5 linked regions of the Homo sapiens genome follow. The protein of the gene in region 1 purifies or fractionates together with the protein of each later gene. This does not show direct contact. Each region holds a gene or a part of one and is shown in the gene's direction. Other genes may lie near its edges.

The links.
Region 2: the proteins of VEGFD (region 1) and PROS1 purify together in Homo sapiens (affinity purification with mass spectrometry; one large-scale study listed by BioGRID and IntAct). This does not show direct contact.
Region 3: the proteins of VEGFD (region 1) and SIL1 purify together in Homo sapiens (affinity purification with mass spectrometry; one large-scale study listed by BioGRID and IntAct). This does not show direct contact.
Region 4: the proteins of VEGFD (region 1) and FRAS1 purify together in Homo sapiens (affinity purification with mass spectrometry; one large-scale study listed by BioGRID and IntAct). This does not show direct contact.
Region 5: the proteins of VEGFD (region 1) and ZNG1C purify together in Homo sapiens (affinity purification with mass spectrometry; one large-scale study listed by BioGRID and IntAct). This does not show direct contact.

The regions. Positions count from the first base shown.
Region 1 is NC_000023.11:15,376,534-15,383,163, reverse strand, and holds part of VEGFD (vascular endothelial growth factor D preproprotein), read left to right. Parts: intron 1-6,630. UniProt on the Homo sapiens protein: Growth factor active in angiogenesis, lymphangiogenesis and endothelial cell growth, stimulating their proliferation and migration and also has effects on the permeability of blood vessels.
Region 2 is NC_000003.12:93,879,659-93,884,499, reverse strand, and holds part of PROS1 (vitamin K-dependent protein S isoform 2 preproprotein), read left to right. Parts: intron 1-4,841. UniProt on the Homo sapiens protein: Anticoagulant plasma protein; it is a cofactor to activated protein C in the degradation of coagulation factors Va and VIIIa. It helps to prevent coagulation and stimulating fibrinolysis.
Region 3 is NC_000005.10:138,943,112-138,950,386, reverse strand, and holds the end of SIL1 (nucleotide exchange factor SIL1 precursor), read left to right. Parts: intron 1-2,913; coding exon 2,914-3,270; 3' UTR 3,271-3,663; downstream 3,664-7,275.
Region 4 is NC_000004.12:78,471,956-78,478,585, forward strand, and holds part of FRAS1 (extracellular matrix organizing protein FRAS1 isoform 1 precursor), read left to right. Parts: intron 1-224; coding exon 225-375; intron 376-1,482; coding exon 1,483-1,642; intron 1,643-3,482; coding exon 3,483-3,651; intron 3,652-5,859; coding exon 5,860-6,106; intron 6,107-6,630. UniProt on the Homo sapiens protein: Involved in extracellular matrix organization. Required for the regulation of epidermal-basement membrane adhesion responsible for proper organogenesis during embryonic development. Involved in brain organization and function.
Region 5 is NC_000009.12:68,254,046-68,260,675, forward strand, and holds part of ZNG1C (zinc-regulated GTPase metalloprotein activator 1C), read left to right. Parts: intron 1-2,875; coding exon 2,876-2,935; intron 2,936-4,486; coding exon 4,487-4,524; intron 4,525-6,630.

The DNA.
Region 1 (6,630 bases):
TCTATTTTGAAAATGATTCGGATGTAATTGTTTTGACTGAAGTGGTGCTAAATCATTATTGATTTAGGAACTTCTGGCCTTGAAAAGACAATTAAATGTGAGTTTGAGTTTTTGTAGCTGTTGTTTAGGACGTGCATTTTCAACAGGGGTGATATCGCCCCCAGCAGGGGAAAATTGGTTCGTGGAGGGATGAAAAAGTTTTACCCTTTTGATACATCACGCACAGACGTACATACAGTACATATGGTATGTAGTTTAAAATACGTTATACATTCAAATTGCATAGGGGGAAAGTGTCTTCAAAGGCTCCTGGCTGGTGTTGGTGGCCTGGCGAGGGTGGGGGCTGATATTTAAAAATGTTGAACACTGAGCTGGAGGTGAGTGGGAAGTCACCTTGTCTGGCAGCCAGCACTTTTCTAACTTCTCAAATTCCAAATTTACATGGGAGAAATCACAGTGTTTGGCTCCATTTTACTGCCACCAGCCTTGATATTGGATCTCAAGGCCAGATTGTAGGTAAATGGGAATCTGACTGTAAGCATAGGTAACAGGAGAAAACGGTCTGACTTGTTTGAAGCAAGTAAGACTTTTCCGACTGTCCAGCTTTTTCGTAAGTTCATGAAACAGAAATCCTTTAGATGTGCTGGGCTCCTCGAGTTTTAAAATATTTCCATTTTCCTTGTAAAACATCACTTTATCTGATGGTATAATAAAGGAGACTGAATTGTTGGACATAAGTCATATTCTTTAGGTTGCTCAGCTCTTTCAAAGAGCACAAGCACCAAGAATGTCTCAGGTGTCCTGGGCACTGTGAAGTTTTATTTATTTATTTATTTATTTATTTGAGACGGAGTCTCACTCTGTCACCCAGGCTGGAGTGTAGTGATGCAATCTCAGCTCGCTGCAACCTCTGCCTCCCGGGTTCAAGTGATTCCCCTGCCTCAGCCTCTCGAGTAGCTGGAATTATAGGCACGTGCCACCATGCCGGGCTAATTTTTTGTATTTTTAGTAGAGACAGGGTTTCACTGTGTTAGCCAGGATGGTCTCGATCTCCTGACCTGATGATCTGCCCGCCTTGGCCTCCCATAGTGCTGGGATTACAGGCGTGAGCCACCGCGCCCGGCTGGCACTGTGAAGTTTTAAATGCTTTGAATGTACTGTTAATATATAAATTTGTTGAATGGAGTAACGAAGGAAAGCAGCTGAATTTGCATGTGACAGAAAACAAGTTGTTACACGTGGAGGATGCAGCATTATATACTTACTAATACGATTAGCAATTTTTTTTCAGAATATATCAGAATTTCCTTTAAAAAGTGAAGCTACATATACTGAACTTATATCCACCCTACCCCTCGCTCAATTAAATTATTTCTGATATGAAGGAAAGGATTGCCTATAGCTAAACAGAAGTTTTGGCATAGATATGACTGAGTGGTAAGGGATAATGAGATATATAATATTGGTTATAGTTTTCTTTTTTCCCCAACTTTTAAGAAAAGAAAATCTAAGAGGAAATAATGTTTCTAAATGTTAAAGTTCTTCTTGTTAAAATTAAAATGTAGTGTGAAAACATATTCATGGTGGTAATGGTTTAGGGTGGTGGTATTTGAATTTTTTGTTTTTTTTTTTTTACTTTTTGAAATAAAATGTTTTATTTATTATAAGAAATTCATGGTCTTCCTCGGTACTTGGTCCATATGTATTTCTTTCTCCTCACCCTCCCCTCTTCTAACCACCTCTTTTCCAGAATGGATGGTGATGCCAATTTTGCTCCTAGGTTGTCCTCCAGCCACCCCCAGCCCAGTTTTCACTTTCTAGCTTTGAAGATTGTCCAGTTTTCCAGCTTAGACTAGCATTGCCTCTACGATAGTTCTAGGTATCTGTGAAGATTTTTTTTTTTCCTGTAGCAATCATGAAATAGCTACTAGTGCTCTGGACGATTGTGCTTAATGCCATTTGGGTGTAAGGCCTCCTAATTTCATTAGTCTTACCACTTGTGTTTGCAAGGATAGCTGTTTGGAGTCAGCAGTGCATGGAACATGTGAACTGAGACAAATCTGTTTGAAAATCTCAACTTAAGATTTCAAATCCACTGTGTATACTATTTAGCTGTTAAGTTTCTCAGTCTAAGAAGAACACGTTTTCCTCTAGAAATAAGCTTAACCCAGTACCTATGCATCGTTCATTAATATAATCAGATTACGGCCTAGATGTGGAATTTATTTCTGTTTCTATTTTCTCCAGCTTTTTAATACAGCTCAGACAGTCATATACAGTTGTACACGATGTGCACTGCACAACTCTAGGGTGCTCCATGCATATAGACATATCTGTATGTGACAGCCCTAAGTACAATGTGGTAGACACTCTGGACATTTGGTAAATAAGTATCTACATCCTCACTCTTCTCTCATTCACATTGGCCTTCTGGCCAGCACTATTTCTGGTTTATTTAATAAACAATTCTTGTCCCCCAGAAATTCTGTGAGTCTTCTGAAGATGCTGGGGAAAGCCAGCCTTCATAAATCTTTTCAATGTCACTAATGAAGACATGTCACTATTGCAACAAAGGAATACCAGGCCATAGTAGGCTTTCACAACTTTTTTCTGACAGAATTTGTTTCTTTCTGCTTTATCTTCCCTGTGTACTGTCTTTTTTTATCCACCCTCTTTCTTAATTACACTGGTAGAAGAATATTGGTGGGTGATGGAGTCATTCACATTCTGTGTAAGACTAGAATCAGTCCAAGATCCACAGGAATGTGGGATACTTCTTTCATGAGAAGCCACATGGCTCACAAGACTTCTTTACATTTGTGTTACTTGCCTTCTCCTGAAATTGTCTCTACAGTGAATCAAATAACAAGGACTGAGGTGTATTTTCCATATTTAATTCCAGGAAGCAGTCCCACTCCTTCTCCCTGCCCGATTTCCAGTTCCAAAGTCATGTACAGGGAAGTCCATTGACTTTGATGTTGGTCAAATGGCCCAGCAAGCTTTTGTCCACTTTTCTGTCAGACACAGTCCTTGGCACAAAAGACATCTGAAATACTTCCCATTAATTTCTTCTTTATTTATGACCTTGTAGTTAAGTGTGTTGAATTATATGCTTCTATACACATCTGTTTTAATCCAGTTACTCACTTATAACTGGTGACTGAAACTTTTATATCACTATAGCGTATTATTGGTACCCAGGATACAATAGAATCCTCAATATCTTACATCTTCAATATAGTACTTCCTTGTATGACTTATTTCTTAACATAAAAATCCTGTTTTAGACCTGTGGATAAACCTTTACTATAAATCCCAGAGACAATTTCTGGAATGAGAATATAGTATTTGTCCACACACATGATTCCATGTAGAACTTGAGGTAATAAGATCTGGGACTCCCAGATACATTTATTATTACCACAATTGGATAGAGGTGCTACAGAAATAGGCACACAAATGACAGTAAAATTGTTTCTGAGAACATTTCTAGGCTCAACTTTTTTCTACAACTTAGGATGAACAGAGAGAGTGGAAACTGTATATAATTGGGAATGTGACTGAGATGAGACAAAGATGACATGGAAGCATTTCTTCTTCCCTTGCTTTTCTGGTGGTAAGTTCACTCTTCTGTCTTCCTTGCCACTAGTTCTTGCAGTCCCTACCAAGACACTAGGGCATTATACAGCAAACACACCCTGAGGCCCCCTGCTACTGCATCATGAAAGCCTTAGCTGGTTGTGATGTCCTAGTTCATAAAGAATCTGCCTAGTCTCTCATTAGAGCTTTCCAATATTTGACAATTCATTCATTTATTTTTTTCAACAGGTATTTATTGGGCACCAATATATCTAGGCATTGATCTAGGGGCTGGGAATGAAGCAGGAAATAAGTCTAGGGGCTGGGAATGCAGCAGGAAATAAGACAATGTTTCAATTCTCTTGGAATTTGCATTCCAAGTGTGATGGGTAGAGGCAGACAATATGCAAATGTGTAACATGTCAGGTGTGATAAATGCTATGAAGAAAATCAAGTAGGGGGAGCGGATACAGTACTGAATAAATCAGAGGAGACCTTTCTGATTCAGTTATGTCTCTACAGAGTCCTGAAGGTAATAAGAGAGACAGAGGCAACCATCAGTGCAGTGGCCATGGTGGGCGCAGCAAGTTGGCTTCGATGTCTGGGTATTAGCCAGGGAGCCGGTGCAGCTGGAGGTGGGGTGAGTGGAGGCCAGAAGTGCAGTTGTTGAGGTTGGAGAAGTAGCCAGAGAAGATCATGTAAGGTGTGACTGTGCTCCCATAAAACTTTATGGACACTAAAAATTGAATTTTATGTAATTTTCCTGCATCATGAAATTAAAAAAAAAATTGTTTCAACCATTGGAAAATGTAAAAAATTGTTCTTAGCTAACAGGCCATACAAAAACAGGCTGCAGGTTAGATTTGGCCCATGGGTCATAGTTTGGCAATTGTGTTATATATAAATTATTACACTGTTTTATCTTCATCATGGTACACATCCATACCTGACATGTTTTATTTGCCTGTGTATACATTTATTGCTTTGTCACCGTCTACTAGAATACAAGTTTTTTGAGAAAAGGAGCTCTTAATTGTCTTGTTTACTGCAGCATCCCAATCACCAGTGAAAAGCCTGTATGTAATAGAGTAGATACTAAAAACAGTATTTGTTGACTGATTGATGGACTAGACCTCAGGATTTTTAGATACCCAGGATCAGGATATGAACTACTGCATTAAATCATCTCCAACATCTACTCTCATGATGGCTTGTCTGACTTCATGATTTAAAAAAAATTCTAAAGCATTTTTAAGGCAGTATATTCACCCTGTGCTATTTTCCTGTGGGCATAGGATAGGGTTTGTGTGGATGTATCAAAGACTTCTCCACTGTCCTTCCAGGCACAAGCCATCCTATAAGGCGTTCCCTTTTAGGAGCCAGAGGTATAGAAGGAAGTCATCTGAGCCCATTATTCCAGCCTGTTGGTAACAGAAAGAGAGATGAGCAAAGTAGCATTTGGCTGCACAGGGGTCTGGACAAAACTTCAACATCTTGATGTTTTCCTTCATCCCTGAGAGCCTTAGAAATGCTACCTATGCTTTCATTTTATGTTAGGTTGTTTGTAAAATCATGGTAAATTATGGCAAAATACTCTGGTCAGATACTTTATCAGGTTAGGCCAGGATATGCTGTGAAAACAAACACCCCCGAAATCTTGGTGGTTCATAAACAACAGAGACTTATTTATTGCTTATACCACATGACCAGCCTGGTTCATCTGGGGTCAAATCCACATGGGGATGAAGCTGGCTGAGTATCCGATCTTGAATGTTAGGAATCACTATGACAGAGGGAGGGAGAGCCTGAGAGCGCCTCACCCTGGCACTTAAATTCTCTGGCCCAGAAGTGACACATATTACTTCTAGTTGCAGCCCCTTGACCCACTGCCCCATCTAGCCACAAAGGGCCAGGAAGTGCAATCCCACCATGCGCTCAGAAGGCAGAGAGATGGAAATATTTGACAAACCGTATTAATGACTGTGACACATGGTGAGTTCTTCACATTGGTGACTTCTAAGTGCTTCTGAACACACCTTTGACTGTAGAATGTCAAAAACATTCTCAATTTTACAGCAGTGCTGGAAAATGAATTGTATTGAGACAACTTGGGAGGAGTAGAAGGAGATGGAATAAAAAAAATTCACTGATTTCTGTCATGTGTCATGCCTCCTTTAATGCACGGAAGAACGTATACTTTGCTTAGGAAATCACATTACCACATTCAGAACAACTTTAGTGAAGATGGGAAACAACCATGGCTGGTCAATGGGGTAACGTGTGCTGAAGGAAGACAGGTTTATTTCTCAGGAGGCATCTTCTCCCTGGGAAAAGGAAAGACACATATTCATCTCAGTAAATATTTGTGGAATGTCTACCATGTGCCAGGCATATGAGTGGAAATGATGTTTTTATAAAATAAAGATGTCTTAAGTATTTGCATGTCTTACTAACAGTCAGGGAGTTCAACTTGGCCAGTGGGAAGGATAATTTTATGCCTGAAACTTTAGTAATGTAAATTTTTATGCTGATTCTCTTTTTGTCATTCACTGAGTATTCCTAAGTAACTATAACACTCACATATTGGAGATAAGTATTGGTTTCCTGAAATCTAGGTTTGGCTAACATTGCTTCTGGAAAGAGAAAATAACATGTGTTGAATGTCCCTATGGCAAATTCTTGCTGTTACTTACTGTTCCATTATGGAGAGTGTTAGAAAGAGTGTAATTTTGATTGAATGAATATGCTAAAAAAAACACCCTAAATAAGAAACTCACAAAAAGAACAGAGTGGAATGAAAAAGTGAAAACAACTTTGCAATGGTGTGCTTCGTTTATAAGTACATTGTCACAGCAAGACTAGGGATGATTGGGCATCTTAGAGAGTGCAGAGGATGTTGATAAGGAAGAGGAAGAGGAGATAAGTGGATTTTGATATGGGACACTAGATCCTTAGGGAAGAAATGTGAAAGAGGGTATTCTGGGCTGACTGCCGCTGGCATAGCAAGGCTGCTTTGTAGAAGGGACAATAAAGTTTTGCATAAGGATCCTT
Region 2 (4,841 bases), on another chromosome or scaffold:
ATAGCCTGATTCCTTATGGGTAAATTCAATTGACCTATTTTAAAGTTCACTGATTTCTCACTTGTATGGAGTCTATCAATGAATGCATCAGAAAGATTCATCTTCATTTCTAGCATTTCTATTTGATGCTTTCTTAAAATTTCTACCTCCCTGTTGAAATTCCCTATCTGTTCACACTTGTCTAGTTTATGTACTGAGTTTTCAATGTATTCATCATAATTATTTTAAATTCCCTGTCTCGTAGTTCCAACTGTGTCATATCTGAGTCTCGTCATTTTGTTTGCTTTGTCCCTTGACCAAGTGTTGTTTTTCTTGCATCTTTGTGTACCATGTAATTTTTGGTTTAGATTTGGGCATCTTACGTATAACAGTAGAGACTGAGATAAAGAATATTTGTGTCTGGAAATGAGCACATTTCTTTTGCTAGGCTCTTAGTAATGGGATTGAATCAATCTAGTGAAAAGTTGAGCTTCTTAAGTTTTGTTGGTGCCAGGATTACCCTTAATGCACCACAGGTTTCAGATCTTTTATTTTGTTTTGTTTTGTTTTTGAGATGGAGTCTCACTTTGTCACCCAGGCTGGGGTGCAGTGATGCAATCTTGGCTCACTGCAACCTCTGCCACCTGGATTCAAGTGATTCTTCTGCCTCAGCCTCCTGAGTAGCTAGAACTACAGGCGCCCGCCACCACGCCCGGCTAATTTTTGTATTTTTGTGTTTTTGGCCAGGCTGGTTTTGAACTGCTGATCTCATGATCCACCCCCTTGGCCTCCCAAAGTGCTGGGATTACAGGTGTGAGCCACCGCACCCAGCCTCAGATTTTCAAAATACTACCTTCTGCTTAGAATAAGGGAATGGTTTGGTAGCTAGTTTTTCTTTTTCTTTTCTTTCTTTTTTTCTTTTTTTTTGAGACTGAGTCTCACTCTGTCACCCAGGCTGGAGCTCAGTGCCACAATCTCGGCTCACCGCAACCTCCACCTTGCAGGTTCAAGTGATTCTCATGCCTCAGCCTCCTGAGTAGCTGGAATTACAAGGGTGCGCCACCATGCCCTGCTAATTTTTGTATTTTTGACGAGGTTTTGCCATGTTGGCCAGGCTGGTTTCAAACTCCTGACTTCAGGTGATCTGCTTGCCTTAGCCTCTCTAAGTGCTGGGATTACAGGCTTGAGCCACCGTGCCTGGCCTAGAGAGTTTTTCATCATAGCAGCTCAGTTTTATGTATTCCCTCCATAATACGCCTCAAGAAAATGTCTCTCCCACTTGTGTCTCTCAAGTGTCTTGCCCACCCCTAGCAGAGTGCTCTTGTTACCTGACATTTGCTAACATGGCAGAGAAGATGCGGAGGTTGGGGAAGCATTCTATGTTGTTGTCGTACAAATTCAGTCTTAGGCAGGTGTTGTATCCCTGGGTCTCAGGAGTGTGGAATTTTCACTGTTCCTCTTCCCTGACTCTCATCAGTAGGGGAGATGTCTAGTGATCAGGACTCAATATGTTTTCTTGCTCCTTCTGCATGATAGATAGCTTTTTTTGTTTGTTCTTCCTAATCTGTAGTTGCAATGAGTCTTCATATGTGTCCTAATGACAAGGTTTGCTGCCTTTCTCCTGGCTTGAAAACTTGTGTTGTGTAGAGGAGACCGAGAAGGATCTAGATGGGGCTTTGTGGCTTCCCTGTAGCTGGTGCTGCTTTCAGGACCATATTAAGAGAGAGGCTTTTTCGGATCTCCTTCCCTGCACTCTGTTTTCTCTTGAGTGCATGGTAAGGTCTGTGGAGAAGAGCCTGTGAATGAGCATGAATTGTCTTTGTGTCTGTAATTTCTAGGGCTTCTAAACTCTTACGTCAGCCCCTACATGGAGTTCAGCAATTTGTTTAAATCTTTACCTAAATTATTTTTACCAAATTGCATGGCATTTCCTGTCTGCCCTGGATTAGAAAGTGTTCTCATTCTGGCTTTCCTTGGAAACACCTGTCTTTCTTTAGGTTTCTGGTTAGTTTGTTGCTCTGCGACCTCAGCTCTTTGATAGTTTCAAGAAAAGTCATGATTATGCAGATAATTTGGCTTTTGTTGTTGTAAGGGTGGGAGTGGTGCCCTTTCCACTTTTCTACAGCCTAAGTGGAGCAGGGAATCTTGCCATACTGACCCTAGGTTTTTAACCTTAGAAGTAATACTTCTGTGAACATCCTAAATCATACATCCTTCTACCTTTATGTGATTAATTCTATGGAAGAAAATTTTAGAATTAGGTTATCTCTATCAAAGGTTATGCAAATATATAATTATTAGAGGTTCAATTACATTCTTTTCCAAAAATCTTTTATCAATTAATATTTCTACCAACAGAATGAGAAAGTGTATGCTTTAGTTTTTTTCCAATCTGATAGTTCAAAAATTAAATTTTGTAGGTTTGAATATTAATATTATTTCTCTAATTTCTACTGAACTTGAATATCCTCCCATATGTTTATTAGCTATTTATAAATTCTAATTATTTTATTGAATTCTTTGTCTTTTTCTTTTTTAGTAGTTCATTATTTGAGCTACTAACACTTTGCATTATAAATTGTTAACACTAATGTGATATCTCTGCTTTAAGAAAAAAATTACATTTTAATTGTGTTTATTTGTAACCTAAAAAGGGCGAGGTAAGGTGGCTCACACTTATAATCCCAGCACTTTAGGAGGCTGAGGCGGGCAGATCCCAAAGAGCTAGAGCCCAAGAGTTCAAGACCAGCCTTGGCAACATGGTGAAACCCTATCTTCACAAAAAATACAAAAATTAGCCAAGCCTGATGGCATGCACCTGTAGTCCCAGCTACTCAGGAGGCTGAGGTGTGAGGATGGCTTGAGCCCAATATGTTGACACAGCAGAGAGCCAGGATCTTATCACTGCACTCCAGCCTGGATGACAGAGTGTGAGCATGTCTCACAAAAAAAAAAAAAAAAAAAGTGCTTACTACATTAAAATACATTTTTAAATTTTTATGTAATTAGGAGGTACAAGTGCAGATTTCTTACATGCATATATTGTGATATATTGTGTAGTGGTGAAATCTGGGCTTTTGGTGTACACATCACCCAAATAGTGAACATGATACCCAATTGGTAATTTTTCAACCCCTACCCTCCTCCCACCCTCCCATCTTTCGTAGTCTATATTTACTACATTTGTTTGTTTGTTTTTGAGACAGGGTCTCTCTCTGTCATCCAGGCTGGAGTGCAGTGGTGCAATCATGGCTCACTGTAACCTAGACCTTCTGGGCTCAAGCAATCCTCCTGCCTCAGCCTCCCAAGTAGCTAGGACTACAGCCACATGCCACCATGCCTTGCTAATTTTTATGTTTTGCAGAGACAGGGTCTTCCCGTGTTGCCCAGGTCAGTTTTCAAATTCCTTAACTCAAGTGATACTCCTGCCTCAGCCTCCCAGTGCTGGTGTTACAGGCATGAGCCACTGTGCCCAGCCTTTTTTACTGTATTTTTAAGGACAAATTTTACAAAAATGATTTCCCTTTTTCTAACACAAATTGATACAATGCCTAGTTCTGTTCTGCCTATGAAAGATTTTTTTAAAGTTATAAATGGGGTGAGGATTAAATTAGGATAAAACTAAATCCATGGTGATTTGGCCAAAGGAAAAAAATCCTGAAAAGGTAATGAAAATAAGAGTTATATTGTATCTAAAAAAATTACTTTAATAAGTAATTAATCATTTCATGGATAATTTGTAAGTGATCTACTTTGTAATTAATATTTAATGTTACATTTTAACTTCTATACATTCGTGTGTTCATTTTAGTTTGAGTTTAATATTCTGTGTTAAATTTACTTATTTCAAGATAAATGTTTAGGTGATAGAAATTCCAATTACCCTGATTTGAGCATTACACATTGTATGCATTTATCAAATGACATATGTACCCCAAAATATGTGCAATTATGATATATCAATTAAAAATTACTTATTTCACAATGATTACATATAAACATTCTTTTTTTTTTGGAGACAGAGTCTCACTCTTTTTCCCAGGCTGGAGTGCAGTGGCGTGATCTCAGCTCACTGCAACCTCTGCCTCCTGAGTTCAAGCGATTCTCCTGAATCAAGCCTCCCGAGTTGTAGCTGGGACTACAGGTATACACCACCATGCTCGGCTAATTTTTTGTATTTTTTTTTCAGTAGAGATGTTTCACCATGTTGCCCAGGCTGGTCTCGAACTCCTGAGCTCAGGCAATTCCAAAGTGCTAGGATTACAGGCATGTGCCACCGTACCCGGTCTATATATTTTTTTTCTTCTGGATGGGAGTTACAGGATTATAATGAAAAACAGTGACATTATATGTGGCTAAGTGGAAGAACATCTTGTCAAAGGAAAATGATTTTCCTTATTCACATTTACCCTTTCAAGGGCTCCGTGTGGTATTTGGGCTTTGCTGTATGTTACATCATATTAAATGAGGAAGACTTCATTCAGATTATGAACTAATATTTTTAGTAATCCAACTATTCTGGAAACATATTAATTCAACAAATATCTATTGAGTGAGTGCTGGGGAAAACAAAGCAATGATAGAGATATATACCTCCTAGAGCTTGCATGTTAGTGGGATAGACAATTAACCTAGTAATTAAGAAAGAGAATGTGAAGGATTATGACAAGAGATTCACAAAACAAGGGTTCCTATTCTGATTTCAAAACTAACTGCTGATGTCAGTGTATTTCTCTAGTATCGAACTATCCAACTCTCCTATGTATATAGATCATATTTATCCTTTGGAGTGATGATGGCAACTGTACCCAGATTTTCCCTAAATTATTACAGTAAATTTGTTGAATTTTCAAACGTGTGCT
Region 3 (7,275 bases), on another chromosome or scaffold:
TGTCCATCACTGTCTCTCCCCAACTCTCTGTCTTTGCCTGTTTCTCTCTCTTCTCTTGTTAAAGCTGCAGAAATCCAGTTTCTTAGAACAGCAGGCAGCCATGTGGTGCTCAGATCCAATTGATAAGGCCTGGGCACAGTTCAGGTTCTGGGACTGGGCCAGTGAGCCTGGAGAAGGACATGTCAGCTGGCTGGGCATTTCCCAGGGAAACTGGGCTCTGTTCTCTGGTGTCTTGGGTGTGTGTCCCTGCTGCCCCCAGCCCTGGCATCCTGGGCACTATGGCACTGACACATTGCTAGCACACTACCACCAGGCAGGCTCACCAAGGCTGCCCCGAGGCTGCCGGCCCCGGGAGCCTGCCTCTGGAAGCTTTGGGGTGCTGACATGATTGGGGAGGGGAGGACTGGCATCTCTCTACAAACAGTACAGAAATGGCCCTCTTCTTTCAGGGAGGACAGCAGATAAATTTCAGCCAGAGAGATTTAGGACACACTGTACTTGGGCTGAGGCAGTCAGGGCTTCTCTGTTCTTGTGATTTCTTTTTTCTTTTTTCTTTTCTTTTCTTTTTTCTTTTTTTTTTTTTTTTTTGAGACAGGGTCTCTCTCTGTCACCCAGTGGCACGATCTTGGCTCACTGTAAACTCTGCCTCCCAGACTCAAGTGATCCTCCCACCTCAGCCCCCTGAGTAGCTGGGACTACAGGTCCATGCCACCATGCCTGGTTAATTTTGTTCGTTTTTTGTAGACAGGGTCTCACTATGTTGCTCAGGCTGGTCTTGAACTCCTGGGCTCAAGCAGTCCTGCCTCAGCTTCCCAAAGTATTGGAATTATAGGCGTGAGTCACTAAGTCCAGCCTCTTGCAGCGCTTAAGAATGAAGACCTAGCCAAGCTAGGGGTGGGTCCAGAGCTGCCTGAAGGTGGAGGGACATGAGCTGTCCACCACGATGGAGGGGTGCCATGCAGCTCGGGGATCACTGCAGCATGTTGTCATGACAGCCAAGGACTGTGGAATTCCCATGGGCAATGTGACACCCCCATCAGGGTGCTGGGGTCTGCCAGGCCCCAGGCAGTCCTCATATGTACCTTGGCCTGTGAGAGGACCTCTACTGAGAGACCATGCCCTGACATCTGGGCTTCTGCAGTGGTGAGATGCCTGCCTGGGGTTTGGATTCCATGGCCTCTGGTGCATCTGAGGAGCTGAAGGGCCGCAGGGGGACCCTGCCTGCCTGTGCTGCCTGCTGTGCCGGGTGCTGGGAAAATAATCCGCAGTCCCTGTCGTCCCTGAGCTTTCAGGCAGATGTTTATCAGAGAATTCCCCTGAGCTTGTGTTGTAGTCTGTCTGCTGCTGCTTTAACAGAATACCCGGGACTGGATAATATAAAGAAAAGGCAGTTTTTGGCTCATGATTCGGGAGGCTGGGAAATCCACGATTGGGTGGGTGCATCTGGCGGGAGCCTTTGTGTTGCATGACAACATTGTGGAAGGTGAGAGGGCAAGAGCACTTGCGGAAAAAAGCATGCTGGGCCGGGCTTGCTCTCTAGAATAACAACCGCTCTCCCGTAAGGAACCCGCTGCCCTCCTGACCTAGGCAGCTCCTCTCAATACTGCTGCCTTGGGAATTAAGCTTCCAACACTTGAACTTTTAGGGAACACACTCAAACCACAGCAGCATATAAGCAGAGAAGGCCAGTCAGGGGAGGCCGGTCAGTGGCGGTGAGGTGTGCAGGGAGCCGTGGAGTGAATGGGGCCAATGCGGGGGTGCACCTGGAAGTCGGAGCTGCGCCTCCAGAGGCCCCAGGGGAGAGTTAGAGTGACAGGAGTGGGTGTGAGTGGGTCCAGGCCGCGCACAGTGGGGGCAGAGCCTGCAGAGCCTCGCAGTCCCAGGGAAGGGATTGATTTTGTCTTTATCACCCGCAATGCCAGGCTGTGAGGGTTTGGGGGCTGGAGGAGAGGGTGAGAGCAGGAGGCACTGGATCGCAGGACACAAGGGACAAAGGTGGAGCTGACAGAATTGGGGTGTGTTTTGGAAGCGAAGCTGGCAGGACTGAGGGGTGAAGTAGGAAAGGACTAGGGGATACCTCTCAGCCTCTCCTGTCCCAGGATGCAGGATTGCACCCCTCCTCAGTTTCCTCTGCCAGCCCCAATCAGCCCCACGACTTCCTGCTGCCGCAGGAAGCACAGGTGGTCCACTGTGGCCTCCTCTTCTCCTGGGCTTCCCTCTTGCCTTGTGCATCTTCCCTGTGCTTCATTCTCCCCTGGAGTTAGGGCAGGCATTCCTTCTTTCTCCATACAGGCACACTTCCTACAGCTGCACGGGAGATCTCTGCCCCCTCCCAACCCTCTACCTCTGACCTTCAGGTAACCTGCCTGCTTGTCATGGTTCAGGTGTTGGCTTTCCCGCTGCTGGTAGCCCGGCAGGATTGGCTCCCACCATGTTCTGCTGATAGAGCTGGGCTTCTGCGCTTTACAGACAGGCTGAGTTTCTCCACTTAGGAGGTGATGACGATGAGTCTCAGGGAGGCTAAGTGCCAGCCATGGTCATTCAGCAAGTCAGTGGTGGAGCAGGAATTTGAAGCCAGCCTGTCTGCCTCCATGCTGCACTGTTAGATTACATTTATGCTATTTGGGAATTAGTTAATTTTTATTCTCCTGCTAGACCTTAAGCTCCTTGAGGGTAAGACTATGTCTCCATCGTGGTTTCTTCAGCACCTGGCACCACACAAGTGTTTCTGTTGGTGGATGAATGAATGAATAGACAGACAGACTTGGGGATAGAGGAAGAGGTGGGCCCTCAGGGGTCAGCCTCGTGCCTTCCTGTCTGAAGGGCAGAGCTAGCCAGGTGTGAGCTAACTGCTCCCTGTGTGTTCTCTCCCCACCCCCACCCTACCTGGCCTGCGGCTGTGGCGGATGGCAGATGTTCGCCGAGGAGGAGGCTGAGCTGACCCAGGAGATGTCCCCAGAGAAGCTGCAGCAGTATCGCCAGGTACACCTCCTGCCAGGCCTGTGGGAACAGGGCTGGTGCGAGATCACGGCCCACCTCCTGGCGCTGCCCGAGCATGATGCCCGTGAGAAGGTGCTGCAGACACTGGGCGTCCTCCTGACCACCTGCCGGGACCGCTACCGTCAGGACCCCCAGCTCGGCAGGACACTGGCCAGCCTGCAGGCTGAGTACCAGGTGCTGGCCAGCCTGGAGCTGCAGGATGGTGAGGACGAGGGCTACTTCCAGGAGCTGCTGGGCTCTGTCAACAGCTTGCTGAAGGAGCTGAGATGAGGCCCCACACCAGGACTGGACTGGGATGCCGCTAGTGAGGCTGAGGGGTGCCAGCGTGGGTGGGCTTCTCAGGCAGGAGGACATCTTGGCAGTGCTGGCTTGGCCATTAAATGGAAACCTGAAGGCCATCCTCTTTCTGCTGTGTGTCTGTGTAGACTGGGCACAGCCCTGTGGCCGGGGGGTCAGGTGAGTGGTTGGGTGATGGGCTCTGCTGACGTGCAGGGCTCAGCCCAGGGCATCCAGGAACAGGCTCCAGGGCAGGAACCTGGGCCCAGGAGTTGCAAGTCTCTGCTTCTTACCAAGCAGCAGCTCTGTACCTTGGGAAGTCGCTTAATTGCTCTGAGCTTGTTTCCTCATCTGTCAGGAGTGCCATTAAAGGAGAAAAATCACGTAGAAAGCTTCACACTAGTGCTGGCACCCCCCAGCTGTGAGGTAAGGCAGGGAATCATCTCACTGCCCCTCTATCGGTGCCCACATAACAGCCTCAAGGCCGCTGACCTGGCCGGCGCCTGAGGCCTGTCCATACACTGGTGCTGTGGTGACCCAGGCAGCTGATGGGCTTGACAGCTGCTGGAGTGATGGGTGCTGGAGCAATGGGTGCCGGGGTGGGGTGCTGAGAGGTGCTGGACTCTGGAGGCCCAGGGGCCAGGCCTTACTCTGGGAGAAAGCTGGCAGTGGGAGCCCAGGGGAGCCCAGGCCTGCCTGGCCCACCTGACAGGGGAGAAGTGCCTCTCTGTGGCCTTGCACCACTTCTGTGTCCAAGCAGAAACAGGGCCAAGCCCAAGGAGGAGGCCTCAGAGCTGGGAGCAGCCGTGCCTGGCGAGTCCCGGCCCCTACCCAGGCTGGCGGAGTCCCGGGCTGGAGCTGGCTGCAGGTTGCCATGGCAACCCGGGCTCTGGGCTTTTCAGACTCGGATTCTGGTGTGTTTGTTTCTCAGCTTTCCCAGTGCACCAGAGGCTTGCTCTTGCGGGCCCAGGCAGCCCCTCCGGCCCCCAGGTGGTAAAGTCGGGAGGGCCAGTCTGGGGCAGGACTCTCCTCTCCCTGGCTCTAGGCCTCACTTGTAGAAATCTCAGTTTTACTGAGCTGAGGGCAAATTGAGGCCCAGAAAAACATGGGGTCAGTAGTTGGCCTTCCCTGCAGTCCCTTTGCTTGGCCACCTGGCTCTTCTCCTCAGCCCCTCTCCTGCTCGCCTCTTGCCGCAACACGACACGCAGGAAGCTCGGAGCAGAGCCACGGCCTGCACGGAGCCCCTCCCAGCAGGGCAGGCTGGAGGCAGGAGTCCAGGCTGATGCTGGAGTAACAGCTTCCCCAGGGCGGGAGGCCTCAGGGCTAGGGCAGAGTGGGGAACAGACTCGCAGTCTGCCAGCCATTGGGTACCTGCTGCCTTTACAGCCTCGCAGGAGTCTTCGAAGTAGATTTTACAGATGAGGAAATCATGGCTCAGAGAGGCCAAGTGATCTGCCTGTGGGGGCAGCAGTGGGCCTGCGGTGCTGATGGTGCTGTGGGAGGCTTGAATGGGAGGCCAAGAAGGGGACGATGTTGAACTGACAGGCAGCGGAGGGAGGACCACGAGAAATGGCCGGGCATGTGTGGCCACAACAGGGCAGGCAGGTTTCAGACAGGAGGTGCCAGCGCCTGGATGAGGCCAAGGTCAAGGGGTGCTTTAGAGGTAGTGTTGGAAGATCTAGCGTAGACTTGAGAAAGGGGCAAGGTGAGGTTTGATGGGGAGAGGGGCTGCCTCAGCAGAGGCTTGGAAGACAGGAGGACTTGGGGCTGGGCTGGGGATGAATCTATTCTAGGCTTTCAGCATTCAGAGGTGAGCACCAAGGCTGGACAGTGGGAACAGTGGACAGGCGAGAGTGTGGGGCCTTGTGGGGAGGCCAGGCCGGGCGCTCGGCTGTGTCAGGACCAGGCTGGCCCTGGAGGCCTCTGTGACCACCAGGGTCTGGCCCGGGGTGTGGAAAGCGTCCCTATGGGAGGAGTGCCACTAGTAGGGGCCTAACTGCAGTCCCCAGTGTCCCCTCTGCCCCCAGGTGTGCTGCCCTCAGCAGCGATTCTGTAAAGCAGAGGGAGGCTTTGGGCCAGGTGCTCTTGAGAGGATTTCTGGGAGCGAGGATGGAGGAACGGGCACCTGGGGGCTGTAGGGAGGGGGCTGGACCAGCGCCAGGCTGCTGAGCCCGAGGCCTGGGAGGTGGGACTGCGTGCACTCTGCCCTCACACACTCAGAGCATCGGAATGGGAGTTGGGCTGCAGTCTCTCTCCTCATTGGCCGCATCCAGGTTCGTTCTGGACTGTTAAGCAGACCCTCCAGGGAGAGGGTGGCGAGGCGCCCCAGGGTCTGGGCTTGGGCTGCTTGGGGGTGGGTTCTGGCTCCGCCTCCTGATTCATCGCGGCTTGTTGTCTGCAGGTCAGGAAGGAACCCCTTCTCTGCCTTCCCTTTGGCTGCCATCCTGGGAACTGTGGTCAAGGAGTGTGACCGGGGCTCGAAGTGAGGCAGGGAGTGGTGACGGGGGAGGTGGGACTTCCTCCTGTGGGGCTGGAGCCTGCTTTCCTGTCCTCACTGTCTTGGGATGGGCTGAGAGGTGTGCTGGGCTGACACCCACAGGCCCTCAGTGATTATTGGGTCCCTGCTCCTGGGCTGGGCTGACCCGGGCCCTAGTGTGGGAGGATGGCAGGGAGGGTGGTGGGCCTAGGTCCTCACCCCATCCCTCAGCAGCTGTGGTTTTATGAGTTCACTTGTTCATTCATTATTTCATTCACACTGTGGCTGTTGAGCAGTCGTGTGTGTCAGGCAGTTGGAGCTGAGAAGTCTGCTGAGCTGGGTGAAGCCAAGGAAAGGCCTCCCAGAGCTGGTGATGGCCAGGCTAAGCCCTGCAGGCTGCAGGAGTAGCAGTCAGGGATGGGCAGTTGGAAGGGCCAGTCTGGGGCAGGCAGGGCAAGGGCTCTGGCCCTGGGAAGATACAGGAAGGCCAGAGAGTGGCCATTTGCAGAATCCACAATTTCGGGTCCTCCGGCAGCTTGTCAGCCCTGCCAAGGGCTGTGCCCTCATCCTAGCAGGTGTTCTCTGGGCTGCTGCTTATTCATTCATTTGTTCAACAAATCTGGTTGGGTACTACGAGCCAGGCACTGTTCTAGGGCAGGAAGTGGTAGGACAGGAGGGGAGAGGGCTGGACCATGATAAATACACATGCTTCAGGGGAGGGCCAGGCAAGGAAGACAGAGCCCAGTGGGAAGGGAAGAGGGGTAGGCACTGCTGTTTCCCCTCAGTGGTGGGGAAGGCCTCTGAGGAGGGGCCAGGCACAGGAGCGCAGCAGTGAGCCATGGGGGTGCTTTGTAGACAAGGGGATAGCAGAGGCAAAGGTCCTGCAGGAACAGGCCAAAGCACTTCAGGAAAAGCCATGAGAACCAGGCCTGGAGCAGGCAGAGACCGAGGGAGGAGTTGCAAGGGAGGGCCGCCTGGGGAGGCTGTGGAAGGGACCTGGGATTTTCTTTGAGGTGGGGCTGTTGAGAGTTGGGTGCAGAGGAGAGACCTGATGTAACCCACCTTTTTCTTTTTGAGACAGGGTCTTGTTCTGTCACTCAGGCTAGAATGCAGTGGTGTGACCATGGCTCACTGCAGCCTTGACCTGCTAGGCTCAAGTGGTCCTCCCACCTCAGCCTCCAAAGTAGCTGGGACCACAGGTGCAAGCTGTCACGCCCAGCTAATTTTTTTCATTTTTTTGTAGAGGTCTCCCTATGTTTTCCAGGCTTGTCTTGAGCTCCTGGGCTCAAGCGATCCTGCTGCCTCAACCTCCCAAAGTGCTGGGATTACAGGTGTGAGCCCCTGTGCCCGGCCTCACCTTTTCTTACTGTTGTGGTGAGAATAGATGACACAGGGGCCAGGAGGGGCAGGGAGCCCAGGGCAGCATCCAGGGGGCAGCTGGACAAGGATGTGGGGCAGGGTGAAGACATAGGACTGTGAGAAGTGTGCAGACTCCAGATGGGGCTGAGGCAGAGCTCAGGGCT
Region 4 (6,630 bases), on another chromosome or scaffold:
TTGACCTTGTGCATGAGCCTTTCTTTCCCTATTAAGTGTGAATACCTCAAGGGCAGAAGCTGGAATGGTTTTCATCCTCATAGCCTCTCCAATCCTGACAGAGCTTTCCATGCAGTAAATACACTCAGTAAATCATTGTTGAACTGAATTAAATCTGAGTCAGAGGGTCTTGTTCCTGCTTTATTCCCACCTCAGGAATTAAATTAAATGGGTTTCTATTCTAGGCAACCAACCTGATCACCAAGAAGGAACTGCTGACCATGGACCCAGACACCGAGGACGCGCAGCTTGTCTATGAGATAACGACGGGCCCTAAGCATGGCTTTGTGGAGAACAAGCTGCAGCCTGGCAGAGCTGCTGCCACTTTCACCCAGGGTGGGGACTCTCTGGGAACTTAGAAATGGGAGAAATCTATGCTAATGTCACACTGCCTATCTCCCAGATTCTTCTCACAGCCACTTCCAGCTACTTATGCCCAAGTAACCACTTTGCAGAGATCTTCTAGTGCTTAACCATCCAACTTAAGAATTTTATTTCTCCTGATTTTTTTCCCTGTGATGATGAACTATGGCAAAGAAAAATTCACCTTTACCGTGCTTCCTCAACTCCTAAATTGCTCTAAGTGTTGGCCAGGTTTTCTGGAAAAGAATGCATGATGCTGCTTGGTTTTCTTTAAAAACAATAACAACAAGAAAGCAAAAAATAACAAGCAGACATTATGAAAGATCTGTGATCCTGTGTGATTTATTTTTTGTTCTCTAAGGATTATAGACTTTAAGTCTTCAGCCTAGAAATTAAAATCAACATGTATAGGTTGCTCAACAGAAATATTTTCCCTGTTTTGAATCATCTCAAGCAGGCCATGTTAAGCTTGTCAGGCTCCTCTAGACTTTTTTCAGGATTGACTTGACTGGGAGCAGTCATTGCAAAACTGCATCTCAAAATTCATGCTCCATGAATTTTCTTTTTACTCTCTGTCCTCAATTGTATGTTCTCTCCTCACACCTTTTTAGCTGTGCTTTGTGTATGGGAAGTTTTAACCCAACCCCAGCTATTCTTATTAGCACATACCTTCCAAAGAACCTTTATTAGAAGGAATTAGGTCTGAGTATGAGGCTATAAACACAGAGGATGGAGTCAAAGACTTTCCTCTGTCAACTCTAGGATTTGCCATCAACATTCACAGACATTTATTGAAGTGCTTTTTGTCAGGACCCTGGGATTCTCATTTTATAACAGCATAAGAGATATTTACAATATCTCTGTACTTAAAGACAGATCTTTTTTTTCACAGAGCTTCAGGATTTTATTTTAAAATCTGACAGAAACATTTATTTTAACAACTACTATACTTTTGGTGCTTGGAAAAATAAGTTTTGTCTGTAATACATTAGAAGAATAAACTAGGTTTGTTGGTGTGGTAATCTATGAAGCTGTCGTTACATCCCTGGGTTAATTCACAGTGAGTCTTTTTTCTCACAGAGGATGTGAACTTGGGGTTGATTCGTTATGTGTTGCACAAGGAGAAGATCCGTGAGATGATGGATAGTTTTCAGTTTCTGGTGAAAGACAGTAAACCCAATGTGGTCAGCGACAATGTCTTCCATATCCAGTGGTCACTCATCAGCTTTAAATATACCAGGTACAAGTTTTACTGTGCTTTCCTTCTTGAGAAATCAATCAGGCAAGCAGAGGGAGTCAGGATGAAGGATGCTGGGGGGCAGCTCTAGTCACCTCTTGATGGCGGTGATGGTGATGATGGCAGTGATAAAAGTAATAATTTCACCAAATATTTATTGAGTACTGTATGTATTAGGTGCTGCACTAGGACTCGACATGCATCATCTTATATAATACTTGGAATTCTGAGATGAATTCCATTCCTGTCTCCACAGTGGCAAAGTAATAGAGACAGAAACTTGTTTATGTAACTTGTCCACAGTCACATAGCTAATAAGAAGTAAGACCAGGATGTAAGCCCAGTGATCTTAACGATGTGCTCTACTGCTGCTCAGACAAATGTTTTTGCTTCTGTCTCTTCAAGTTTTAGAAGAGAGTCTAGTAGAACTGATAGGAAAAATAAAAATAGGCATTCAAGTTTGGAAAATAATCACTGGCCCACACTATCAATATCTTCACCTTCCATCTGTATTCTCCTTGTTCCCAACCCTGTTTTCTCCCCTGGCTTCTTTGGGTTTGGTAGGAATGTATATCTGTAGGGCTAAATGCATGGCTTAATGTGGACAGCCCTTTAAGATGCTTTTCTAATCTGTTGGAGAGTTAGAAAGGCAAACAGAGAGATACTGATTGTTAAAGGTAGTGTGCAAGCATGGTGCTGATTTTATAGGTTAGATTATAACTAGGATTATAATTTATGTGGGGGAAATATTCTTTAAGTCTACATTTCAGAGACTCACTATCCAAGAAATCAACTTCATGAAAATTCAGATAAAAATTGGAACTTGGGGGAAAAAAGGAAGACTTAAAACCTTGATTTCATGTGCCCCAAATTCAGGCTATTCTACTCTTACACACATTTGGAGAATTAGAGGAAAATTAGAATCAACTTTTACATATGTAATGTTTTGCTGTTATTTACCTCTCAATTGTATCACCTTCAAAATTCAATAAATTCAATAAAATTCATCCCTTTTTCTGGACAACCCTCTAACATTTAATGGACTAAGTGGTATAGACGGTCCCAAAGCTGGCAATGAGGACTGAGCTCTCAGAGTCACTTTCCCTGCTGTCCTCACAGCAACAAGACATGCACCCAGGTCTAGGGGCCATCCTCAGTGGTGAAAAACAAAGCCCAGCTCATGCCCTACTTTCTGTGGCCTTTCCAAACCTAGATACTTATTATGAATCAATAGCATATGAATAGTTGGCCTTCTACTTTACAAATGCAATAGAGATTCTGAGCAGCAAGCTAAATTAATCATGTCCTTCCCCCATTGTCATAAAGTTCTATTTGTCTAAACATCTCTGTTATGTAGGCTTACCTCACATTTTCTTACCTCTGCTTCTGCTCTGACTCCATCACACAGTTCCTGGAGATCTGGTCCAGTCAGTTCCCACCTAAGTCATTGATTGCCTTCAGAGCAGCTTTCTTCCCTAAGAACCCACTGACCTATTGTGATTACTCAACCCCAGGAGGGAGAGATTGTTTTTCCTTTCTCTGTGCCCTGAAATCTGAAGTTCATTGCTCCTATGTGCTGTCCATCTCCCAAAATGACTCTTAGCTTGCTTGCAAAGCAGGGAAGACGACATTCTGCATCCACAGCTTCCCTGTTTGTTTCGTGCTCTGATTGTTCAGGTGAACTCATTCCCTCAATTTACAGCCTGGATTCTTAGAGGAACCAAACTTCCTCTTCTCTGACTACCTAATGCCAAGAACCAAATGGAAGAGACAGGCATTAAACAAGTTGTTTTTTCATAACCATGGGGCATAGTTTAAGAGATGCCTTTTTGTGTGCTTCCAGCTACAATGTCAGTGAGAAGGCAGGGTCTGTCAGTGTCACGGTGCAGAGGACTGGGAACCTGAACCAATATGCCATCGTCCTGTGTCGCACCGAGCAAGGCACCGCCAGCTCCAGCTCCAGGGTCAGCTCCCAACCTGGGCAACAGGACTATGTAGAGTATGCTGGCCAGGTAGGTGGGGTAGTGGGGTTGGGGGAGGCTCCAGCAAGGGCTGTGACATGGCTGCAAGCAATTGTGGCACTTTCCTACTTCTTCCCAACTTTGCTTTTCACTGGTGTCCTTCTTCAAGTATTAAATAGTTTTCCTATGTTCCCCTCCCATAGTACTTTGTTCTTCACAGTCTCTCTAACCTCCATTGAAGTTTTAACTGCCAAAGGGGAAGTTGTTGTCTAGCTTCTCAGTCTTTACATTTTGCTTCATGACAAAAAGAAGTCTCCAAGCATCATGTTCTATATTCAGCTTTGGTATCCCAACCGTTCTTCTCCTCTCACCTTCTTTACCTAAAGGGAGAGAAGAGAGTGTGTAAGGAGACTGGTTGGGAATCCCTTGGGGTAGGCTGGCTGAGATGATGGGAGCTTGGGCTTCGATTATGAAGTGAAGTTTGAGAGAAGCGGATGGATTTGACAGATGAGTGAGAATTGATAGGATTTGGCAGTGGATTGATTAGACAGTGGGGCCATTTGAAAGATGGATGATGATGCCTCTTGCTAGGAAGGGACATATAAGAGGAGCCGGTTGGGCAAGGTTTGGTGCTCGTGACTTTGCTTTGGCTATGTTAGGTATAAATTGTCTTAGAAAGAGCAGGTTGACCACTGTATAGATGGGCAGGCAGTGCAGAGAGGAGTCTGGTGTCCAGAGAGAAATTTGCAAGTCATCTACATACCAGTGGTAATTAAAGGTGGCAATGAGAAAGAAAAAGGAGAGAGTGAAAGTGGAAGAGAAAGGAGGACTTAAATAGTCAACTTAAATAGTCAACAAATACAGGGCCCCATGTATTTGTCATCTTTTATGGAGGGCACAATGTCTGACACTTAATTTTTTTTTCAAAGCAACTTTATTGTTATTATGGCAACACAGATCTCTGTAAAGAGAAGTGGGCTCTGTTCTTTAATTGAGGCATTTCAGCTGGACTAAGCTAATGTCTCTAATGTCAAATGTAAGTGAGGAATTAGGAAAGAACAGATAAGCTAATGTCTTTCAGCTAAATGATAAGACGGAGGATATTCTTGTGTTTTTCAGGGAAAGACAGAAGACTGTCAGTGTATTCTAGATCTTACATAAAGATCTGTTGAGTGTTTCATTTCACTGGGAGTGTTTTAAAATATGAAGCTTAATAAAAGTGTTATTAGTTGATTAGATATATACTAATAATTTTCTGTTTGAGTAAAATTTTTGCAGATTTGTGTGTCCCCAGACATTTATGTCTGTTTTTTGTACATATTTCAGTTATCTCCGTTTACACAAAGTATAGTCCAGGCTCATTTCCTGCAGTTTCAGTTTTGGGCAAGTCCATAGTCGTGGTTTCACTTGAAGATTTTTAATTTCTTTCTTTTTAAAAAAAAAAAAAAACAAAGTAAAACCAGAATAAGTCCCTATAAGTTCACAATTGTGTACATATAAAATAATTTCTCTGTTTTGTACTGGGCTAAATTGATTCACATTTTAATGGCAAAGGGTGTAGTCAAAATATCAAGTTAAAATTAGTCTACCTTGTTTATAATGTAATTTTCTATGAATTTAAATTCCATTATTCAGTACACTGGAATTCTATGTCAATTTTAATTGTGTAAGTAATATGGTGATACTAATGATAATATCTTATGTTTGTTTGGTACTTTAAAATACACTTAACACCTTCATATACAAGACCTCCTTTAGTCCTCCCAAGAAGCGTATGAGGTAGGAATATTATGACTTTTCTTTAGTTGATGAGGAATCTGATGTTTGTAAAGCTTCATAACCTAATACAGCTTGGAAGTAACAGAACCAGATCTGAGAACAGAACTTCATACTCCAAGGCCAGAGTTCTTCCAGAAAGGGAACTGAGTCATCAAATGATGACTGTTGCTGCCCCAAGTGAGATAATAAGACAGGCTATAAAGAGTTACTACATGTTTTTCTCCAGTCACCAATGGTAGGAGAGATTTTGCTCCTTCATGTCCTTATACAATAAAGCAGCCCTCCTGTACAGGTTAAGAATGGGAAGAGGTGGCTGGGTGTTCCAGGTGATGCAGCAGGGAACCAGGGCTGGGAGAACCAGCTATTTCAGTCAGTGCTCTGCCCACTGGACTTGGATGCTCTTTTCCTATGATGCCCTGGGGAAGCAGAGCAGGGGAAGCTGAGGCACAGCTTAACTTCTTGTTGGTTCCTTTGTGACAGGTCCAGTTTGATGAGCGAGAGGACACCAAGTCCTGCACCATTGTCATCAACGATGATGACGTGTTTGAAAATGTTGAGAGTTTCACTGTGGAGCTCAGCATGCCAGCTTATGCCCTGTTAGGGGAATTCACCCAGGCGAAGGTCATTATCAACGATACCGAGGATGAACCCACATTAGAGTTTGACAAGAAGATCTACTGGGTTAACGAGAGCGCTGGTTTTCTGTTTGCACCTATTGAAAGAAAAGGTCTGTTGGTTCCACAGGTGACAAAGAGCTATAATAATTGCTAACATTTATTGAGTTCCTATTATGTGCTAAGCACTCATCTCATGCATTATCTTAACTCACATGTGTACTTTCCACTTATTAACTCATTTGGTTCCCACAACAACCCTGATGATGATTCTATCCATAGTGACTACCATCAGAAAGCCTCTTTTCTTAGTTCAAGTTGTTAGAGCTCCCATTTACTCTTAAATTGGACTAGAAGACTGGTTATATTTAGCCTTCTAAATTATTCATGAATCAGTATTCTTAATCAATCACCCAATCCATAAAATATTTAGTAACCTTGGTCAAGGAGGGAAGTTACAGTTCATAAGGACTGGCTTTCCATCTTATTCTTGGAAGACAGAAATATGCTGAAAATTTCCCTATGTGACAGTCATATGTAGAGCTCAGATGAGAAATAAACTATGTGTAAGAAATAAAGGGCAATTCTTTTTTTGTTTTATTTTTGACTGATACATAGTAATTGTGCATGTTGATAA
Region 5 (6,630 bases), on another chromosome or scaffold:
CTTCATGACACCAGTTTTTTTAATACTGAATTTTCTTTTGTTCTTCGTATGTATTCTAATTGCTTTGATTTGTCTTTTACCTTTGCATTTACTGTGATCATCTGAAGCCTTTCTTTTTGTCAATAATTCTGTTTTCTCCAGTATCTGTCCTGTTTTTGATATTTTAAATGAATTAATTGGTTAAGTCATTGTGTTATATAGGCTCTAAGTTTCTTTAGCACTACAAACTGCATTTTCATCTTATTCTGCTTCTTGCTTTTGAGCTTGTTTATTATAAGGTTGTATTGTTTTCAAGTTCTTCATTATGATGAAGTTGTTGAGAATTTTCTTTAGTTTTTATTGGGTTATGTATCCTTCCAGAATGGGTTCTTTGCCACTTGTATGCCCTATTCATTTCTTCATTTTGTGTTCTTTCTTGCTTTTTATTCCCTGTATGTGTGTATTTCTTTTTGTCAGGCTGTAATACATATGCATACAAGTTTCTTCTTGATATGGGAGAACTTCTATGTGGTGCTGATGGGAAATATTTTTAATACTCCACTCTCCTTACCCAAGTTTGTTTTTCTCCTGAGCCCTAGTTTGAAAGCTGTATATTGTTGGAGTGGAGGGAAAGAGAAGGGAAAAGTGGTGATTCAGAGAGCCAAATGGGGCAATGTGGCTTTTAGGCTCTGCTCTCTTGAAGTACCAAGTATTTCACTCTTGGGTCTGCCCAACTGCTTATGAATAAAATTCCTTTGCCTTGTATGGGGACATCATTCGACCTCAGACCTCTCATTTCTCTTTGTTCTGAGCCCTAGAATGTGACCTGACCTTCTCCTTCCCAAAGCATGGAGATGGTTAAAACTCACTCTTGAAATTTTTTTGTTGACTTTTCCCTCTGTTGCTTATTCATTCCTCGGCTCTACTTTTTGCCATTTTGGAGTGTATTTCTGGTAAGTGTTTAGGATTTTGTAAACTATTTCCCTACAACCTCTTATTGGAGGTAGGGGTAGAGTTGGGAATGACCATCAATCACATATAACTTTGTTTCTTATTTTGACTATCAGTCTTCAAAATTTATGGCAGGCCCTTTTATATTTGGTTGCTGCTAATAAAATGTTGGCCTTTTTGTTTTATTTTTTATTTTTATTTTTTGTTTTATTAGATTTTGAAGAAGGGAGATTCTAAAATGTAGTTCAGGTTTTCTCAGTGTCAGCACAAATAACATTTTGGGTTGGATAATTATTTGTTGTGAGGGGGTTGCCCTGTGCAGAGTAGGATATTTAACAACATCCCTGGCTTCTACCCACTAGATGCCAGTAGCATTCCCCTAGTTAAGACAACCAAAAACATCTTCAGACATTGCCAAATATTCCCTGGGGAGAAAAGCACCCTGGTTTGAGAGCCACTAATCAATTTTGTTCATTCATCTTTACTCCTCCTAAATACCTACATCCAAATTTTAAATAGATCTTTCTCATGTAGTCTGGCAAGTATTATATCAAAGATAAATACCAGTTTTAGAATAAAGCATTAATATACTCTTACATTTCAACTTAAGAGGCAAATATTAACAGTAGGATTTGTAAACTATTTATTAGACTAAAAATCAATGAATTTTTAAAAATTACAAAATGATTTATGTATGTTAGATATTTTACTGAGTGAAAAAATTCATGCTTTTTTAAATGACTTATTGTTTGGAGTAGTGATACAGTAGATTTAATTTTCCCCCTCATTAATTAAAATCATGTTTTAGCCAAGAAAGTGAACAGAATTCTTATTGGCAATTCAGTTGTTTCCCATTTTGGAGACTGACACTCTCCAGTTCTAAGTTAAATAATTGTCATGGTAAAGTAATTTCCTTGAAAAGAACGGACATTGATTCAGCCCCTGTTACTCACAAATCCTATTTGAGTCAAATTGGAAAACTATTACGTTTTTGGGAAAAAAATCAATAGGTATCAGGAAACCATTAGATCTTGTGGCCCTTGCTATATCTTGCATGAGTAATCACTGTAAACAGCTGACCGGTATTTCATTGTTGACACAGAGTGATGCTTGGGGGACCACATCTTGTCAGAGCAGGTGGACAGCTTTAGACGTTGGAATGAGTTTGATTATCCTTGTTTTTCTCCTACACTCATTCTTTTAGACAGCCCTGTCACTAACTGGGCCTGTGATGCTTTCAAAAATCAAATACTTTCCTTGCTGTCAGTTTTCTTTTTCTTGCGTTGTGGCATACTAATCAGGGTATGTGGTTTGGTACTGAACCAATTTCTGTCAAAAGCAAGTTTTAATTTATTATTTAGGAAAAATTTTTCCTAAGACCCAGGTTTTATACAGTCCTAAATAAATAGTGTGAGGAATAATTAGTAATGCCATAGAGTATATAATTTTACTTCTAGTTCTACACAGATTACAAGTAAATTTTTTTTGGGCAAGTGATTTTGGAATTATCTATGTTTTGTTTTCCTTTTCCTTTAGAGTGATAATTCACTATTTATGATTGAATGATTATCATATTAAAGAGGTGAGAAAATAAAAATAAGTCTGATGTGCACAAAGCCATACTGCTCAAATTGTTTGATAATATCTGTTAATTAAATTATTATGGCATCGGTAGAAGAATGATGTTTTGTTTATATGTGGTTAGAATTGGTCTTTTTTAAAGGAAATAACGAGAGATGGAAATGGAATGGGTATAAATAGTAAAAGGTTCTATCACTATAATTCCCTTTTGCTATAAATAGTTAAAGCTTCTATCACTATAATTTCCATAAGAAGATATATGTGTTTACCTGTTAATTTTATCAGGGCAAATTAAAACATGGATAGAATCATGTTTCTCAGTGTGAAGAAATATTTTTATTTGATGAATATTATATATTTTCAGGTGCAGTGGCTTCTATGTTTTGGGTTGATGCTGAATTAGGGAGTGATATTTACCTTGATGGTAAGTTAAAAAACAGTTTTCTTTTATCTTTCTTGGTTTTTTTTTTTGTTTTTTTTTTTTTTTTCTGAGACAGAGTCTCACTTTGTTGCCCAGACTGGAGTGCATGGAGTGCAGTGGCATGATCTCGGCTCACTGCAATCTTTACCTCCTGGGTTCAAGTGATTCTCCTGCCTCAGCCTCCCGAGTAGCTGGGACTACAGGCGTGCACCATCGTACCTGGCTAATTTTTGGATTTTTAGTAGAGACGGGGTTTCGCCATGTTGGCCTGACTGGTCTTGAACCCCTGACTTCAGGTGATCCGCCAGCCTCGGCCTCCCAAAGTGCTGGGATTACAGGCGTGAGCCACCACACCCTGCCTCTTTTGTTTTTTAGTAAAATCTTTATGGTTAAGCTTATTGTTGTTCATTCATATTATAACTTTAATTCCTTGCATTGTTGTTCTTTTCACACTTTAGTTTAATGATGAAATCTTTGTTCATATAGATTAAAAAACCCCAAACAGTGGTGGAAATCGATGTCACTCAACTTCCAATTTAGTGCTTCCACTAAGGTTTTCTTTAAAAAAAAAAATGCTTTGTAGGTTTTCTGTATCCTCTGTTGTTTGATTTATGCCCTTAATATAATGTTAGAGCCTTTTATTTTAATCCTCCAGGCAATATGAGGATCATATTTTTGCTTTTATTTTCTCTTGAAGATAAGAATTAAACACTCCTCCCTTACTTTATTTACCTGAACACTTTTGGGCAATGATATGCCTTCATTTAAAATATATTAGAAACTTTCTTAGTTAAGCGACTATGTTTTCTCCCTTTCTCTTTCCCTTTTTCACCTTTTTAAAAACCAGTCGAAATTTTCTTACTTTTTCAAAAGTAATAATCATTAAGAAATTTAAGAATTATTAAGCTGGGCCCCATCATTGAGCTCTAATATATGTGGCGGGTAACTGGTTGAATTCCTTAGCATAATTAAACTCATTCTTTTGTTATCAGCATATATTCAGAGATTGCAAAATGAATTGGTAGTTTGGAAACTTAGGCATATGTTATGTAAAACATTTATGAGCTGGATTTGGATTTGGATTTGGTGAGAGATGTTAGGAATGATACCTTAAGATGTCTCATTCTTTAGGCAATAATTTAAATCTTAAGAAAAGTCTTGATTTTGATTATGTGAAAATAAACTAGAAATAACCTGTCTTATGTACTTATCACATTTGACTATGTTATGAAATTTGACTTATATTTTGGATTGTAAGCTTTTTCAGTGCCAAGGAAATCTTATTTTCTTATTTATTTAATTTAAAATTTTTATTTGTTTTATATCTTCTCTAGTGCCTTAAAATAGTGCTAGCCACTCAGGAAATGCATTGACTTATTACTGGAATTTAATTAAATGGCAGCACTGGCAAGAGAAAAAAACAGTACATTGTTTTATTGAGTAGTATTTGTGAACTGAAATAGGTTAGTTTTAATTTTCATTCTGAAGTATGGTTGCACAAGTATTAATAAGCATTCTTTTTAAAAAGTGATTAAAATGTTTTTTCCTTTGTAGGTATCATAACTATTGTGGATTCAAAATATGGATTAAAAGTAAGTTGAAAGATTGCTATGAGTGGCTCATTATTGAGAGCTGGGAATATGGGGATTGATTGTTTAATTTTCTTTATGTTTGTATCTGAAATTTTCTTTAACAAAAACCTTTCTCAAAAAGATATCCTGAACAATAGGTGAAATTTGTGTTTTAATTATTAGTTTGTGTTAAATATTTCTTTTCTATTACTCTGAGTTTGATTTGGTGATAAAATTTGGAATTATAATTTGTAATAAGCATATGGGGTTAGGATAGAGTTTGGTATGTATAGCTCTTCACAAGGATTCAACCCCAATATTGCTAAGTTTTTCTGTTCCATAGAAGAAGCTGAGCTTGATAAAGCATCTGAGATCTTATTTTTCTTGTTAAATTACTATTAAACACACACTGGAAATGAGTTTTTAAAAAATATTGAAGACCTAGGTGATGGGTTAATAGGTGCAGGAAACCACCATGGCACCCGTTTACCTATGTAACAAACCTGCACATCGTGAGCATGTACCCTGGAACTTAAAATTTAAAAAGTACATATTGAAGAAAATCAGGATATACACATAGGATTAGTAAGAAGACTCTCTCCATTAAAAGGCATCTTGCATCGCTTCTTGGTCTTTTGGCTAAGATCAAGTGTAAAAGACATCCTGCTATGAATGTTTTTGTTAACTTCTAAGGTCCTAGAATGCATTTAAATGAGGTTTAATTTATAAAATGCATTTAGTAAGATCTTTAAAAGTATGTTGTTACATACAGTAAAATGATGTTTCTCAACTTCCCAGGTGAAATACCACTAAAGGCAGAAGAGAATGAAATCATCCCACCCACTGACCCGTTCCCAATCTGAGCATATGGATAGGGCCCAAAGCAGTAAGTTCTTAGAAGTTTAAATTCAGTGTTTAAAAATTAGTGTCTGTTTTGTATCCAACCTCATATCTGAACGTGTTAATTTTTTTTTTTTTTTTGAGACAGAGTCTCACTCTGTTGCCCAGGCTGGAGTGCAGTGGCACCATCTTGGCTCACTGCAACCTCCACCTCCCAGCTTCAAGCGATTCCCTTGTCTCAGCCTCCTGAGTATCTGGGATTACAGGTGCACACCACCATGCCCAGCTAATTTTGTATTTTTAGTAGAGACAGGATTTTACCATGTTGACCAGCCTGGTCATGAACTCCTGACCTCAAGTGATCCACTTGCCTCGGCCTCCCAAAGTGCTGGGATTACAGGCATGAGCCACCACGCCCTGCCTGAACTTGTTAATGTTTAAGTTTGCTTTTTTTTCCCAAATCTTTGCTGAAATTATGCTCTAAGGGGATATGTCAGGTTTGTCAAATAGCTACCAATACCTCTTCACTGGGCCTTCTCTCCCTCGTTGATAGAGTGCCCTAATTTGAAAAGTTTGGAAGAAAACTCCTTTTTTAGAGTTTAAAATCTCAATTTATGAATTTATGAATATAATTTAAGAATCAAAGAATGATCCCAAATACAGTATTACAGTTTCACGCAGAAAAATTCCAATGACTGTTGGAAATCATATTTCTTGCAAAATGCTTATGGAGGTAGCAAAAAAGCCCCAAATTATTCATTTTGAATGTTTATTATAGGCATGTTTGAATCTACCTCTTCCATAAATTTATTACAAAATTTGATATACCTATGTGACAGATAACTGCTAAGACATTTTGTTTTTTTTTTATTTTGATAGACTGAAAATGCCATGCTAAAAGTCAAACTGTTTATGTATTTTATGATTATAGGAAAAATTTTATATGTATAGTTGGGTATGGAGAAGAGTTAAATAGAATCTATTATCAGCATGACGGAGGCCAAAAAAACAAAGCAACATTCTGAATAATGCAAACACAGTAAACGTTTAACCTTCTGCTACCTTGATAAAACCTCTTAAATTATTAAATCAGTATACCTACACAAAACTGACACACTGTCAGGATAATGGAAACTTTAAATTTTCTAAGTCGGATGCCAGATAAATAACTTTGCCTTGATATAAAGAATTTTCCAACTTGTCCAATTCCTCTGGTTGCAAAGCTTGACCTCAGTAGCTGCTTGTGATTCAGAGAATTCTGAGGCAGTACAAGTAATGACACTTGGA